Linked DNA regions of Homo sapiens: region 2 is linked to region 1. The links come from fine-mapping of genetic effects on gene expression. A gene starts in region 1. The other region holds a variant in brackets. All regions are shown on one strand. Distances are between the middles of the regions. Region 1 holds the start of DOCK4 (dedicator of cytokinesis 4). Region 2 overlaps DOCK4 (dedicator of cytokinesis 4).

What was found.
Region 2: its variant is fine-mapped to the expression of DOCK4 in whole blood (TOPMed, PIP 0.98).

Annotation. Positions count from the first base shown.
Region 1 is chr7:112,202,705-112,211,047 of GRCh38, reverse strand. It overlaps DOCK4 (dedicator of cytokinesis 4), which reads left to right and starts at 4,649. Exons shown (of 53, transcript NM_001363540.2): 1 at 4,649-4,946. The coding sequence starts at 4,910. It overlaps ZNF277 (zinc finger protein 277), which reads right to left and starts at 4,353. Exons shown (of 12, transcript NM_021994.3): 1 at 4,241-4,353. The coding sequence starts at 4,331. RefSeq lists an enhancer at 4,138-4,257 and a silencer at 4,428-4,777.
Region 2 is chr7:112,082,662-112,091,004 of GRCh38, reverse strand. All of the region lies in intron 1 of DOCK4 (dedicator of cytokinesis 4), which reads left to right. Among named protein-coding and RNA genes, the nearest start is that of DOCK4, 120 kb to the left of the region's middle. RefSeq lists an enhancer at 6,417-6,516. The variant G/T (reference allele first, on the strand shown) is at 4,723.

The DNA of each region.
Region 1 (8,343 bases):
GGGAAAAAAGTTGACTTTGACAGAATATTACAATATGGAGATACAGATTAATACTCAGAAGAAATAGCCTCAGTCACAAAAGCCTCCTAAATGTATTATTACTGAATTGTGCTACCTTGCTGATTTTTAAAAACAGCAAAAGAACAAATGCCAATGACACCACGTGAGGGATGCTGAATCTATTTATTATCTGTTCTTAATTTTAGGAGACAAATTGAAATTCTGGTTACTGTTCAGATGTATGTAAAGCAGTGTCCTTTAACCCTTGACCTAGTGTGCCAGGTGCAGTAGCTCACGCCTGTAATCCCAGCACTTTGGGAGGCCGAGGAGGGTGGATCACCTGTGGTCAGGAGTTTGAGACCAGCCTGGCCTAGATGGCGAAACTCTGTCTCTACTAAAAATATAAAAATTAGCTGGGCATGGTGGCACACGCCTGTAATCCCAGCTACTCGGGAGGCTGTGGCAGGAGAATCACTTGAACCCGGGAGGCGGAGGTTGCAGTGAGCTGAGATCGTGCCACTCCACTCCAGCTTGGGTTACAGAGCAGGACTCTGTCTCAAAAAAAAAAACAAAAAAAAAAAACAAAAAACAAAAACAAAAAAAGCAAAAAAATCCTTGACCTCAATGTGGGGACTTTCTTGGAGAAGGATGGAGCCACAGAAGTCTGGCAACACAGTGGTCTCAGTGAGTGTTGCACCTGCCTGCACCCCACCCACTGACTCACTCTAGCAGAGATTTTGAGGAATTGCAAGGATTTCTATAAAAAGTCTTCCTAGGCCTCACTGTCCCAGGGTATTAAACACACAGACTAACATTTTAATCAGAGCAAGAAGAAAATCTCTTAAAAGAAGCAGTTTTCAAGAAGTCAAAAAGGTGTATGTTTTTTAAAAATTTTATTTTTATTATACTTTAAGTTCCAGGGTACATGTGCACAACTTGGAGGTTTGTTGCATATGTATACATGTGCCATATTGGTTTGCTGCACCCATTAACTCGTCATTTACATTAGGTATTTCTCCTAATGCTATCCCTTCCCCATCCCCCAACCCCACGACAGGCCCGGGTATGTGATGTTCCCTGCCCTGTGTCCAAGTGTTCTCATTGTTCAATTTCCACCTATAAGTGAGAACATGTGGTGTTTGGTTTTCTGTCCTTGCGATAGTTTGCTCACAATGATGGTTTTCAGCTTCATCCATGTCCCTACAAAGGACATGAACTCATCCAAAAAGGTGTATGATTTTTACAGGGAAAGACATACTTGATAACCTAAATGACTGCCTAACAAAAAATATACTTTTAATATAAATATTTACACCTAAAATTTATATCACACCTTGTTGGCTTTGAAAAGATTTTGGAAAAAGTAACAGAATGATACATAGGTTATTAAGCAGAATTTTTAATGACAACTTTATCTTATAAAAATGACATAAAAAATCAACCATTAATTTCTCCTGTTGACTGCTACAAGTCAATGAGAATACTGGGTATTTCTCACCGAGGGTGAGAAATTTTTTTATGTTATAGATACCGCAAATTCACTACTACTCAACACTTTTATTGAAAACAAACTGGAATCAAAAACTAAGCTTTCTATCAGTTACTTAATTCAATCTACTAGTCATTGAAACATTGGTCCTGGATTATTTCCTCAAAGTTTGTGACAATATGGGGGAAAGAACACTCATATACTACAGGTGGCAATGTATGCTGAATATATTTTAAGAGGAAAGTCTGGCATCTGTCAAAATTTTAAACTTGCATAACCTTTGATCCAGCAATTTTCTCCCAAAATATACAACCAGTGGGCAAGAATATATGTACATAAAGTTGTTCATTGCAACATTACTGAAAAACTAAAGTCACACTATATGTTCATTTATAAGGGAATGGATAAAGAATGGCACAATCATATTTTGGAATATGATGGGCACAGTCCTTAAAAAAAAAGGAAACAAATGTACTGACGTGGAAGGGTTTCTATGATAGACTGCTGAAAGAAAAAAGAAGGTTGCAGATCTTTCAGTTTATATAGATTTATCCCTTTTTATTATAAAAATCAAATCATAGGCCGGGCGCGGTGGCTTACGCCTGTAATCCCAGCACTTTGGGAGGCCGAGACGGGCGGATCACGAGGTCAGCAGATCGAGACCTCCTGGCTAACACGGTGAAACCCCGTCTCTACTAAAAATACAAAAAACTAGCCGGGCTTGTTGGCTGGCGCCTGTAGTCCCAGTTACTCGGGAGGCTGAGGCAGGAGAATGGCGTGAACCTGGGAGGCGGAGCTTGCAGTGAGCCGAGATCGCGCCACTGCACTCCAGCCTGGTTGACAAAGCGAGACTCCGTCTCAAAAAAAAAAAAAAAAAAAAAAAATCAAATCATACAGACGTGTGTCATATAAGAATATGGTGGTTTAACAGAATACGGATTGTAGGATTAAAAAAAAAAAAAGAAGAAGAAGAATATGTTGGAAAGAATATGTACCAAACTCTTATCACTTAATACTCGGGGAGTGGTGCTGTGAGGTGAGGGAATTTTCATTTTTTTTACTTCATACACTTCTGAATGGTTTGAAGTGCTTTTAAAAACTTTTAAACTTGTAAAATTTAAAAATAAATATTTTTAAATATTTTACATTTTTGAAAGGCATATCCTTTTTTTTTGTTTTGTTTTTGATACAGAGTCTTGCTCTGCCTCCCAGGCTGGAGTGCAGTGGTGGATCATGGCTCACCACAACCTCCGCCTCCCGGGCTCAAGGGATTCTCCTGCCTCGGCCTCCCGAGTAGCTGGGACTACAGGCATCCGCCACCACGCCCGGCTAATTTTTGTATTTTTAGTAGAGACGGGGTTTCACCATATTGGCCAGGCTGGTCTCGAACTCCTGACCTTGTGATCCACTCGCCTCGGCCTCCCAAAGTGCTGGTATTACAGGGGTGAGCCACCGTGCCCGGCCATTTTTTAAAATAAGTTAGACTGTGAGATAAATTCACCAGTTTAGATCTTAAACTGGTAGCCCTCTGGAACTTTGAAAATCTAGGAAACCGTAATAGTCTGTTACCATCAGATAGCCCAATATATAACCAACCCAAAAATAAACCATTAGGGTGTTAAATTCAATATTTAACTCAGGAGACTACCAAAGATTTGTTTGGTAGAGGTACTAAAATAATTTCAGAGTAGGGAGTTCCACTGTTGGGAAGTGGGAAAAAACTGCACTTCAACTCTGTGCCGCTGAGGTAAATACTTAAGATGATATCAATTTAACTGTGAAAGCAAAAACAAATAAATCGAAAAACAAAGTCGCAACAGTCTGAGAACTATATTTAAGCCCCAAACCATGTTCATCAGAAAAAGACAACTTGTGCTAAATTACACATCAAGACAAAAATGGGGTGGGGGGAATGGGGGAGGGATAGACTAAAGGTAAAAGAGTCCTAAACACAATCCACCTGCAGCTTTCAAAATTTGGTTTTTTATTCCTACAGTGGATCAGAGGACAACCTGAAAGTCAGGTACAGCCAAAGTTGTGATGGTTTTCAAAACTCTTTTCAAATGTTCTTTGAAGCCACGAGTGCAAATTATCTATCACTTTCCTTTTCTTTCTCTAAGGACCCAGAGACTGGGAAGATCTCTCAGGCTCCACATACAAATCTGAAGAACACCCAGAGCAGTTAACCATCTACAGGGAGGTTGTGAGATACACACACTTTCCCTTCAGAGGTCACCTCAGCCACAAACTGGGCAAATCTGTAGAGTGGAGAGCAGTGACCACCAGTCTGCGACTGGAAATACTCCGGAAGCTAAATAAAACACACCTGCGAGGTCAAACCAAGCAAACCAAGGCAGTGTACTGGTGAGGAGAAAGAGCTGCTAATCCCAAAATTATAAACACACGCGCGCGAACCAGATCTGAACCAAACCCACTCAGCAGCTAGCTCAAAGCTGGGAGCTCCAAACCAGAAGACAAACGCTCAGGGAGCTTCCCCGGCGGAGGGGAAGGCCATTCCATGGCATTTTCTCCGCCATCCCATGGCATTTTCTCCGCCATCCCCGGGCAGCCCCAACCAAGTAGCCGCCACCGGCTCCAACCCATCCCGCTGGGCCACCACCCGTGGGGCCCAGTCGAACCCAGGTGGCCCCAGAGCTGAAGGGCTCCTAGGGTCAGACCAGAGGTCCGTTGCACACCCGGTCATAGAGAAAGGAAGACACATCAGCCGCGCCTCCGGGGCACCGTACTCACCCCCATAACCTACACCCCCGACTGTGCTGCAGCTCCCATCACGGTCTTCCTGCATTCGGGCGACAGCCCCCTGGGTCTTGGAAGCAGCCATTACCCGGCAGAAAAGAAAAGGGAGGGCCGCAGGGCGGGTCGGAGGCGGGGTGGCACCAGTAGAAACGCTACTGGAGGCGAACTCCCCGTCGACGTAATGTTTTCTCCACACCTACGCCGCGCTCTGGACCAATAGGACGCAATCAGTAAAACTGAATCCCCGCCCCGAACCACATTTGCCGCGCCCACTTCCGGGATGGGGAGGCCAAGAACTACAATTCCCAGCGTGCTGCGGGGCCCTGGGACGGGAGGGCTGGACTAGGCGCTGGCGGGCGGGGGTGCGCCGGAGAGTGCCCCGGCGTGTTCGCTTAGTTCAGTGAATCAGAACAATGACTGCGCCGCCGGGTACCCGGGAGCGCGTCGGAGGACTGTGAGCAGCCGCCGCCGGGAGAGCTGCGGGCGGCGCAGTGTCAACGCTGGGCTCGGGAGCCTCCAGCGCAGATCCTGCCCAGCGCCCGCAGCCCGCGCGAAGCCGCTGGGCTCCGGCACTGCAGCGCTGCTCGGGGACTGTGCATTGTTGTGAGCCGGAGAAGGGGCGCGGGGATTACAAAGCCTGAAGACCCCGGAGCCCCTTTAGCCATGTGGATACCTACGGAGCACGAGAAATACGGCGTGGGTGAGTCTCCGCGGGGCGAACTTTTATTCTGCTCTGGCCCGAGCGAGTGCGCATTTCTCGTCCTTGCCCCCGCGCCCCTCTCGCTCCGCCCGGTTGAAAATGCCTAATCCTGGCATCGCGCAGCTGGTACGGGGCTTTGCCGAGCCAGCTCCAGGCAGAGGGCTGCGCACCAGGCTCTCGCCCCGCACCGCCTGCTCGGCGCGCCCCGCACTGGTTCCCGAAGCGCCGGGACAGCTTGGGGGAGCGCGCGGCCGGCCCGCTAGCTTCGGGCTCTGCCTGCGGAGTTTGGAGTGGCGACTGGGCGTGTGTGTGTGTGTGTGTGTGTGTGTCAAGTTGGAAGAGGAGGCGAATGGGGTTTCTCTCCTTCCTTACCCTTCTTCCCCAAAGCGACAGGGAGCTGCAACGGTTCCTCTGGGTGGAGAGGGAGACAACAACACTCGGGCAGAGAGAACACCCCCAAAACAGTAGGGAGGCGCAAACCCTTCCCTCTGGCTCGGATCGACATTCCCGGAGTGTGGAATGTGGCAGGGTCCTGGAGAGAGCCGCTCTGACAAGCTGAGCCCTCTCTGACCCTCCTCCCTCTCTGCGATCCCGGATTTATGGGGTGTGTATGTTGCGGGGCGGGGGCATTGGTAAATTTCAACATCTGCGCCGCTCGGTTCTTTGGTCTTTGGAGAAGAACGGGTATTTCAGCAGTGTTTTTACTTCTGGCCACCCTCTCGACCCCGGGTGAGCGCAGTGGGGGCGGTGTGGCGGTACAGGGCTGCTGAGTGATAAATGGGGAGGGGGATCGGAAAGCCTGGTTCTTGGGGGCAGGGAGATAGCTTTTAGGAAAGCATACCCTGACACTGGCGTTCGGAGAAAAAGGAACAGGATAGCTCTCGCTGTTCTGTGTAAAGGTGAACAACAAAGGACATTAATGTTGACTGATGAATACAGGAGTCTCCCTTCCTTTTCCTCCTCCCATTTCAGGCGGGTTACAGTTCCCGTTTTTGTTGTTTGATTTCAGCTGGGTCGCCCCTTGACAGTTACTCCTTTTAGGGTTGAGACTATTAAGAAGCCAGGCTCTCCGACAAGGCTGCAGCCGGCCAAATGCAATTATAACCTCCCAGAAGGTCTAACAGAAAGCATTATGGATTTTACTAACACTCTTTATTTCCTATAATGCCCTGTTCTGCCGACTGGTGTACTTTGTGTGTGTGTGTGTGTGTGTGTGTGTTTTAAAATTGAGGACAGGTCTAGTGATTTAGGTGATGTGTAGATATCTGCTTATGTTCTAAATTCATTTTCCTGCAATTTAAAACATCTGGAAAGCCTTCCCAGGGAGTCGTAGTCCGAGGGGATTTTTGTTTTTTTTTTTCCCAACTTTGCCTGGGGATAGGACTTTGGGGTCCATTGAAAGGACTGTAGGATTCAACAAAATCATTCCCACATTTCACGTTAGCTTCCATTCTGGATTGTGACTAATTACCAAGACAATAGTTTGACCTGAACCCACCTTTGGGAAAGGTTTCCAGCTTTCCCTCCTTCAAAGTGTCAGAGGAGTCTTTGCCAGCCTCTTTACTGGCAAGGAGTAGATGTTAGTAGTTGTTATTTTCGTTCTCCTCACTCTTCTCTTTTTTGGGAGGTAGATTAACCCTTGCTAGGGAAAAAGATAGTCCCTTTGCTGGACTGGTGAGGGACCCGAGGGCATCGCCTCCTAAGCGGCTTTAACACTCAGTGCAGGAAGCTCAGATCCATCCAGGCAAAACTGTCCTGCTTGGAGTCGATCCCAGATGTTGCTTTCTTCCAAGTGTTAAATTATACAGATTATGGATGGGATTTATTTTCTTGATTTCTTCATGTGCCAGGTCACAGCTGGGGTGCTGGTATCGATTAGTTCCTCTCTTGCCTTTCTTTACAAGCGGTGGGCAGAGGCTTAAAAACCACTCTGGGATTTCCTGGAATGGCAAACCGGATATTATCAGTCAAATGTTTTGGGCTGCAGCAGACACCTCGGTTTTGGGTGGTTGTGATTTGATTGCAGAGTAGGGGAGGCAGAAGGGTGTGCTCACAATTGAGAAAAAGAGGTTGAATGAGATGAAGGACGAGAGCAGAGAGAGGGTCTTTTGCCCCAAATTACTGCTGTTGTTCTCAATATCACATGTGCCAGAATGTTAATTAACCTTTATTATTAATTTTTGAGCATTTGGATTGTGGAATGCTTAGCTGTTTTTTAGAATCCATCTGTTAGGCGTGTGTGTGTGTGTGTGTGTGTGTGTGTGTGTGTGTGTGTAGTGAAATTTTTGCTAGGATACTTATGTGTGGACTTTATTTTTCACCATGGAGGGCACTGTTTATAGCTGCTTATATTGCAAGTTGTTTGTTTTTTCTTTTAACCTTGGTTAATGTTTGTGTTTTTCTCATGTAGTTCTTACAGATGTTAAAGAAAAGATCTTATGGGCACAGATCTTTGTTACCAAGTGTAGTGGTAATTTAGTTTCTTCATTCTTTGAAATAAATCAGTCTTTGTAACAGAATATGTGACGTTTTAGTATAAATTATATATTTCTGCAAAGGTACTTTTTATATACCCTCATTTATGTATGAGATAATTATGCTTTTATATACTTATGATTAAATTTTAAGCAGCATACTGTAAACATGGGTAAAATTAGTTAAATTTTATATCTGTAATTAAATGTATCGGAGATGGAAATTCTTTTTCGTAACTGATGTATAGGCACCGTCCCATTTAATGAATGATTAAATTCATTAAAACAACGAAAAGTCAGTCATAAGTGTTCTGATTTTAGGAAAAGGTATAGTGATGAAGTTATAGTTCTGAGGAACAGGGAACCTTGTCTTTTAGAAATCATGTTAAGAGGCACAGTGATAGGCAATTTCACCTTAGGAGATTCTAGTTAGCTCTTGATTCTGGGCTAGACACTGCTGCCAGCTGTGTAACCTTAGGTAAATCACTTAGCCTTTCTGGGTCCCAGCGTCTGGGGCAAGTGTTAACTAAAGCCTTCCCTGGTACTAATTTTGTAGAGCTCTTCCAACTAACTGTGTTCTTTGGTTAGAAAAACATCTTCATTGTGTTGAGACTGCTATGACAGAGACACTTTTGTTGTGACATATCTCACTTGGTTTTTAAGTAAGATCAGAGGTAAGCAAACGCTACCTGGCAAGCTGCCAGAACTGAGGTGCTGGTTCCTCTCTTTCTCAATTTGTTTGATTCTCTCTGGCTAGTAGGAGCTCCATGGGCAGTGACTGAAGCATTTTGTTTGTTTTTTAAATGTATTTTCCTTGACAAATAATAATAATATATTTTTTAAGTTTTCATTTTTTTTTTTTTAATTTAGAGACAGGGTTTTGCTCTGTTGCCCAGGCTGGAGTGCAGTGGCTATTCATAGGC
Region 2 (8,343 bases), 120 kb after region 1:
TTTGTGGGTGTGCCTGAGGGTTAAGGTGTTTGGTGAATGTGAGCCCGGTAGAGTCAGGGGGTCCCTGCCTAGGAATCTGGAGACAGAAAATCTGGTGCTCCCCCTGCCACTTCTAGCTCTTTGAGCCAAATAACGTTATTACCCTGAACTGCAATTGATTTACCCATAAAATGAAGAGTTAAATTAAAAGATCTCCAGTTCTGAAATTCTGTCTCAATGGTCACAGTTTGCCCATCCATTCAGTGCATGTTTATTGTGATTCTTTGCTCCAGGCACTATGTTTATAGCTTACCCAGAATATAGTTTATAGAATCAAAATATGTTGTTTGCTTCTTTCCATGAAAAATAATCTGTCTAATCTTTCAAAAATGAGCTTGTATATTTAACCTTTTCAAAACCTAACCAATTTGCCCTTACTGCAATGTAGTTTTCAACTTTAAAAAGATCATAGAGTCTCCTGTTTTTCCAGGTTATAAAATATGGTTACTTACATATGCAGATGACTAGATTATTTCAGAAATAGATAAGAATGGTTTGTCTAAACAGATATTTTTGCAATGTTAGAGGTGAATTGACTTTTTCTGTTTAGCTTTCATATAGTTTTTACTTGTGAAAATATGTTTATATCTCAAAATTATTACAGGATCTTAATCCATAACTCTATATTGTACAGAATGTCTAAATGCATAATTTCTTCCCCCCAATCTCAAAATATAATTAGAATCAATTTAGCTGACAGAGTTCAGATTTTGATATCTTATTTTATAATTTATTTATCTTTTTAGAACCTCTAATGATACCATATAATTTTCCTTTATAGCACATATCACCCATGATAATTATGCATTTATTTGTGTGATTGATTCATGCTATCTTTACCTTGAGACTAAAAGCTAAAATAGAAGTTCCAGGGGCTTATCCTTGAAAGACTAACTTAGAATCTCCAGAAAGAGGGTCTTAAGAATATTTTGTGATTCTTCAGTTGACACCATAAACCTTGATTTGGAAATCTCAGTTAGCAAAAACTGATGCCAGCTTTCAAGATTTGGATTAGTTCAATGAATGCATTTAACACTGTATTAGTCAATTCTCACACTGCTATAAAGAAACACCTGAAACTGGGTAATTTATTTAAAAAAAGAAGTTTAATTGGCCCATGATTCTGCAGGCTGTACAGGAAGTGTGGCTGGGGAGTCCTCAGGAAACTTTCATCATGGCGGAAGGGGAAGCAGGCACGACTTACATTGCTGGAGCAGGAGGAAGAGCGAGAAGGGGGAGGTGCTACATGCCTTTAAACAACCAGATCTCATGAGAACTCACTCACTATCATCAGAACAATAAGGAGGAAATCCATCCCCATGATCCAGTCATCTCCCACTAGGAGATTACAGTTCAACATGAGATATGGGCAGGGACACAAATCCAAACCATATCAAACACCAAACCGTAATTTAGTATTTGATTCATATGTCCTTTGGAAGGACTTCTGGATATAAGTTAAAGTCATTGGTTTTAAGTTGTATATCCTTGAAAGGTCATTAAGTGAAAAACTGTAACTAAGATATTTATAAAAATTGAATAATGGATGGGTGATTTGTTGGTGATGGGTTTGATTATTTCTTCTGGTGGAGAATGGGAGGTCAGTGTCAACAGGGCAAAGTACAATAAGTGGGTAAAGTTTTTTGTATTGATTATATATAGCAAAGGTGTTCTTAAATTAAAACCTAATTTGAAGCCCTAGAAAGGAGGAAAGGTAATGGATCTCTAGTTTCAGGCATCAACCTTCTGGAGCATCCCTGGCCAATAAAAATGAAATGCAAGTCACACATATAATTTTAAATTTTATAACAGCCACAGTAAAAAGAACTTTAACAAGTAAAAAAAGGGAAAAATAGGCAAAATTAATTTTGACATTATATTTAACACAGTATATCTAAAATATTGTCATTTCATAACAATTATTAATTAGGTATTTTATATTCTTTTTTGGACCCAAGTCTTCGAAATCCAGTGTGTCTTTTACGTTGACAACATATAAAAACAAGCATTGACAACGTATTGAGCACTTACTGCCTGCCAGCTGTTACTGTAAGCTCTTTAAATGCATTACTTAATTAATCCTTTCAGTCACACTATGAGGTGGTAGATACTAGTGTTATCCCCATTTTATAGATGAGGAAACTGAGGGACAAAGGGGTTAAGGAACCTTCCTAAGGGCACAGAGCAACTAAGTGGCAGAGCTAGGATACATTCTCAGCAGTGCAACTCTAGAATGTTTGATGTTCACCATAAGGCTCTCCTGCCCCAGTTAACACAATCCTGCCCGATAGGAAACTAAATGAGTGGAAACTTGCCAAGGGGACTCAAAGCTAATAAGTGACTTAGCACATGTTTAAGCTCTGTGCTCTTTCCCATAGTACTAATAGAAAAAAAACAAGAGGTCATACTGGCTGCTTTAATCATGATTTTATCACTACTGAATATGAAGACTTGGATATGTACAGAAATTTTCACTTAGGAGTTTGGGTGTTTCTATGTGTATGTATATATGTGTGCAAATAAGTATTGTCTTACATGTTTTCCAAAAGAGGATAAGAAAATCCATTAATTATATAGGAGATACATTTTTTTATCTATAAACATCTAACCTTTCAAAGAATTAAAAGGGGATATTTCAGTTGCCAAAAGAACACATTTAAAAAGGCTTTGTAATTCTGTTTATTATCTGGTGGTTTATCTAGCCATGGACTGAGTGTTTAAACTTGAAGAAGAATGACCATGTATTAAAACTTCACTCTAAAACTGATCCTCCAGCCAACAGTGTGACCTGCCTGAAGATGTGATTTTATGCTTCTATGCTTTTGCCTGAAAACTCACCTAGTTGTGCTCCCTGTCTGCATGCGAGGTCTCATACGGGACCTTGTCCCACGATCCCACTGGTTTCCTGCTTGTCTACTGCCTTTCCAGCCTATTTATTTAAAAATCTACTCCCCTTCACCACTGTTGGGTATGTACCTCTTGCTAGGGACACCACTGTATTTTTGACTATTTCTATCATATTTTTTAACACCTTGTGTTGGAGTAGTAATTACAAATCTCCCACCTGCATGCCACTCCATGGATCTGTTAGAGATGTCTAAACAGGGCTGTATTTCATTCACGATGTGTCTCCTTTGTCCCATAATTGACAAATGGTCCCAATACAATGTTAATATGATGGTCTAGGTCTCAGGAGTTAGATACCCATTTCTGAGTGGGACTGGAGAGAAAGGCTTAGGGAAAAGTGAGACTCTATTTAGGAGATAACCCAAAATGAAGCTGTCTGACAGTTTTGTCTCAGGGTACATAGTATTTTAGATAACGATATCTTTTTTTCTTTTCTTCAAGGAAAAAATTCAAAGCTTAAATCTCTCATTTTTTTCCTAGACATTTTATTATTTGTTTTTGACACTTTATACTTTAAGGGTACATTCCAGAGCTGCAGGATATTTTGCTTTGTCATTATTGAATCTGAAGACTATCATGTTTATATAGGCGTCTTCAGTGAATTTGGGCAGTTTTATGAGGATGTCTATTTGTGTGCAAATAAGCATTTCCATACGTGTCTTTCAAAACAGAACAAATCTAAATCTAAAGATAATTTTCAAGTTTGGCCAGGGAATCCTTATGTTATATTGATTCCATAAAAACAGGGGTATGTATTACCTAGCAGCTGAAGAAGAGATGGCCTACATTAGGCACCTGAGTGTCAGAAGGGGTTGTCAAGAAAGTGTACAGTTAATACATAAGTCTGTCCTGATTGAATTAATTAATCAAGAACTACAGGTGTTGAAAAGAGAAATGGGTACCTGGAGAAGGACATCATCTATATTGGCATCTTGGAATGTTAAAAAAGGAAATAGCTCACCACAGCCCTAGCCTGGTGAGCTGCCCTGTCTGCACCACAAAATATAGAACTCTGAGACTCCTGAGGGTTATCTCAGTTTTTCTGTCTTTTCTTCCTTCTTACCCAGGGTTCAGCATGCAAGGTTATTCATTAAAATCCTGTCTTTTTCTGATTTGTTTTTTCAGGGGTGGTGGGGGTGCTGGTAGTGACAGAATTTTCCAATTCTCCTAGGTGCCTTTGCTTTTCTATCCTGGTGCTACTGACTGTGTAAACTGTGACAAAATTCCCTTCCAATCCTTGGTTACTGTTTAATTCCCCTACATGTGCTTCAGAGTCAACATTTAGTGTGCTTGGGCAGGATGGCCTTGGCTCAGCGTAAAACTCTGTCAGAATCGGTTAGATGTGACTTCAGAGTTGGGTTTTATTGACATTTTACATGCCCGAGTTGATTTTGGAAATTGCCTCTGTTACCACATCCTTACTTCTGATCCTAATGGGAAACCAACATTTGCTAGATTTTTGGCAACCACTGTTTTAACAGGAGGAACCTGTGTCTCATACACTGCTGTATTGCCACAGCTTTGAGTTTTGACAGTAAGGAGAAGGTAGGTACTTAATAAGTATTTATTGAGTTAATGAATTTTGGTGCTCTCGGTTCTGATTTTAAAACGTTTTCTGTTTCATTGACTCTCCTGTTAAGAAAACAAAACCTTTCCCAAACTTAGCTATTTAATATAGAAACTATAATTCTAAAGAATAAAGAGAAGAAAGAGAGAACAGACAGACACAGACGTTAACTGGTGCACGACTTATGGTCCCTATATTTAAATGGGCAT[G/T]AACTGTGGTGAGCTAGTTTTTCTGGATTTCCCTTTCTGCCTTATTTATTGTGGAAATTTGTACACAAAGGTGTACAAAGATAACGTACTATATATTCATGTATTTTTTGAACTTCAAAAATTATCCACATTTTGCCAATCTTATCCATGTCTGATCTTTCTTTTTCCTGTAGTACATTTAAGCAAATCCTAAATATGGTGTTATATTACCTCAAAATACTCCAGTATACATTTCCGAGGATTTTTTTAACCAAATTGTCATGACATGTAACATAAGGAGTAATCATTTCAAGAATTAATATCCTATACAGCCAGCCCATATTACAATGTTTCAAGGATGTACTTGTTAGCTCCAGAGACTTGATTAGACTCTGGTCTGTTTATTTGCTTTTTTTGGCAAAAATGTCTCATAGCTGGGGCTGTGTCTTTTTTTCTGCAAGAGAGACTTGTTGTCTGCCTGTGCCTCTTCCAGGGACACTGCTGAAGATACCTAGATCAGCAAGTTCAAATGCTGTCAGCCCGATCCCATTTGAAAGTTCTCTATCAAGCTTTCCCTGATGGATTTAGCATCCATTGATGATCACTGTCAAGATCCATTATTTATCTTAGGAATTAGGAAAATCTTAGTTTTCTCATTGTGATTCTGTCATTTCTTGTACATTTATTGGGTGAATTCTTCCATAAAGAACTTCTACCCATCTGCTACTTGATTACCTTGAAATACACTTTTTACAGGAAAGGTAAGATAAATGCTTGATACTTTCTCCTTATTTATAACTTTTTGGAATCATAAATTTGTACCCTGGCAACCGGCAGTAATGAATCATTGAAATTTTCTCATTAGTATCATTATGAACTCATGAGTTTTTATATATTAGATGTCTTTCAATCTAGTGCATTTTTTTCCTCTTAAATTGCCCTATCTTAGGTCACTTTGACCTCTGTTTCTTTTTGACACAGCCAAATCAGTTTTTGATGGGCTATGGATTTAAAATCTCTAATCTTGTTTACTGGTTTATGAAAGATAATTTGAAATTGCTCTCTTGAGCATCCTGACCCTTTGATTCAAGCAAATATTGTGGGACTGAGGGGAAGCTATGAAGTTCTTTGCCAAATGTTACCATGTTAAATCTCTTCATTTTGAGGAGAAAAGATTAGAAGATGGCTTTGTGATATGATCTGTGTGGCAGTTTCTGATGTTGAAGTGAATATACTAGAACAATTTTCTCATAGAATGGGATATAGTAAGAGCACTGTTCTGAAGTCAGACAGCCCTCGCTCCAAATTCCTGCTTGACCACTTCCAAGCCATACAACTTGGCCAAGTAACTTATGTTCTGTATGTTTTAGTTTTTTCATTTTCTAAAGTACACATACATGGTAATAATACCTTCCTTTTGGAATAGTTGTGTGGTTAACTTGAAGTGATAATGGTGAAAACACCCAGCAGAAAGCCGGTCACACGGGAAGTGCCTTGTAATGGTAGCATAACAATGGTAACAAGTCATGTCACTGTGATTTGGCATTAAATCTGGATATCTGTTACTTCACTCTGTACAAACATGAAGGGAGATTTTCTAAGAAAACAAGGATTTTCTTTCGTTTTCATTATGCATGTCTTGAAATTTCCTGCATTGCTCTATTTGTGGGAACTGAAACATTTTCTCAGCCCAAGCATCATGTGACTGTTTCTTATTGCTAGTCAGCAGCATGAAACCTCAGATGAAAGTATATTAACTGAGGGTCTGGTAGAACTGTTCAGCAAAGCTAAGCAGACTTTATTTAAAGAAAATGCTCATTCCCTTTTGCTGGACACACAACTTCTAAGATCCATGTATCATGCTGCTAAGTAGTGGCTTTGGGATGCTCTCTGTATAAATGAAATTTTCTAGTCAGCTGAAATTCAAACACTAAACATTCAAATATTTTAGTAGCTGCTGATATAAATTGTACTGAAATGTAATGGTTTTAAGCGGAAGCAATTTAAACATCTTTTCACTTTTTCTTTATGATTGCATCAGTCAGCTGTTGCTCCATAAAAATCAATTCCACAACTCAGTGGCTTAAACTAATTTTCATTCATTCTCACTCTCTGTGATAGAGATTGGCTGGGCATGTTCTGGGCCAGGCCTGACGGCATGACTCTACTTCATGCTGCAGGCCTGTCTGGGTTTAGGTCCTCACTGTGGATTAAGCTTAGGTCTGTTCCAGAAATGTTTATTTTGAGGGCCCAGTCTGAAGGAAGCAAACCAGCGAAGCTATTCCTATGGTCGTGGTAGGAGTACAAGAGTGTTAGCCCAACTGTGCAAGCGCACTTCAGCTGTCAACTGGAATCACATCTGATTCCATTCCGTTGGTCAAAGTAAGTCAATCACTAAGCCTAACAGCAGAGCAGGGAAGTATACTTATTCCATGAGGTGGTTAGGGAAAAGTGATTATTTGCCAAATACCAATCTAATTTACCGTACTAAACTAAGCCTTTGGTATGATCCTCTAACAAGGTTCCATACTATATGTAGTTATTATTCATATCTTTAATATCCCTGCCATCAGTTCTGACTTTTCATCTTGTTCATTCTGTGCCACGGAAAACCATGTCTTTTAAAAATTGTGTTCAGGTAAAGATAAATTCTACATGAAGATTTTAAGGCCTTCTGGGGAGTGAAGCTTTGTTTTCATAGCTATTTTGGATGTTTGGTGGCCTTTTATTTTATTTTATTTTATTTACCTTAATCATTTTGTTCCAAAAAGAATTAGAGATGTTGCCAGAAATTTGACTTCTGGGTATGAGGGGTTAAGCTCAACATGTAAAGATAAAAACTTCTAGGAAACAGAGGTTAATTCATTATGTTATAGTAACTGGGTCATACGTTATACTATTAATTCTATATTTTATATTCTAATCTTATATCTATAACCAACTCACAGAACAACTAGGGGAAAATTACCTAATCTCTAGGTACTTTTATGTAAAACCAATGGAGATGATAGATGTGAGAGCCTGAGGCAATTGTGATGGTATTCACATATCAAATAAAATTATTTTCAACTATGTTAAGATCATATTAATAAAAAATTCTACTGATTCCTAATTCATAATTAATCTGCCTAAACTACATTGAAATTTACTTTACCTTAGTGCAATTTATGGATAAAGGGATTATTTATAAAATTTATGTTGTGAACCCTCTGAAAAGAAGTACATTATTAAAATTAGAATATTTATTTGGGGCTACAATTAATGCTAATTATAATTAGTGCTAATTTCAAGTGTGCTTAATCTATTCAAAAAGTAGACCCAGTGGACTTTAAATTGACCATCTCCATAATACATTAAAAGTAATAAAGTGGTTTTTATTTAAATACATTCTAGAATAAATGATACTTTAATTTAAAATTTATTTCTAGCTAAGTCATATGGGTAGGATTTTACCAAGTTTAAAAAATTATATATTTTTCAGATACATGAATAGCACTACCAATCTCAGTTGTTTCTGATATAAAATGTCTCAGCAAGTACTGTGGTGATTAGTATTTCTCTCTCCTTTCTCTTTTTCTATATAGTAAACTATAAGCCTTAAATCGTTAAGTGTAATGTAATCTGAGGAGAGAGAGTGAGTTG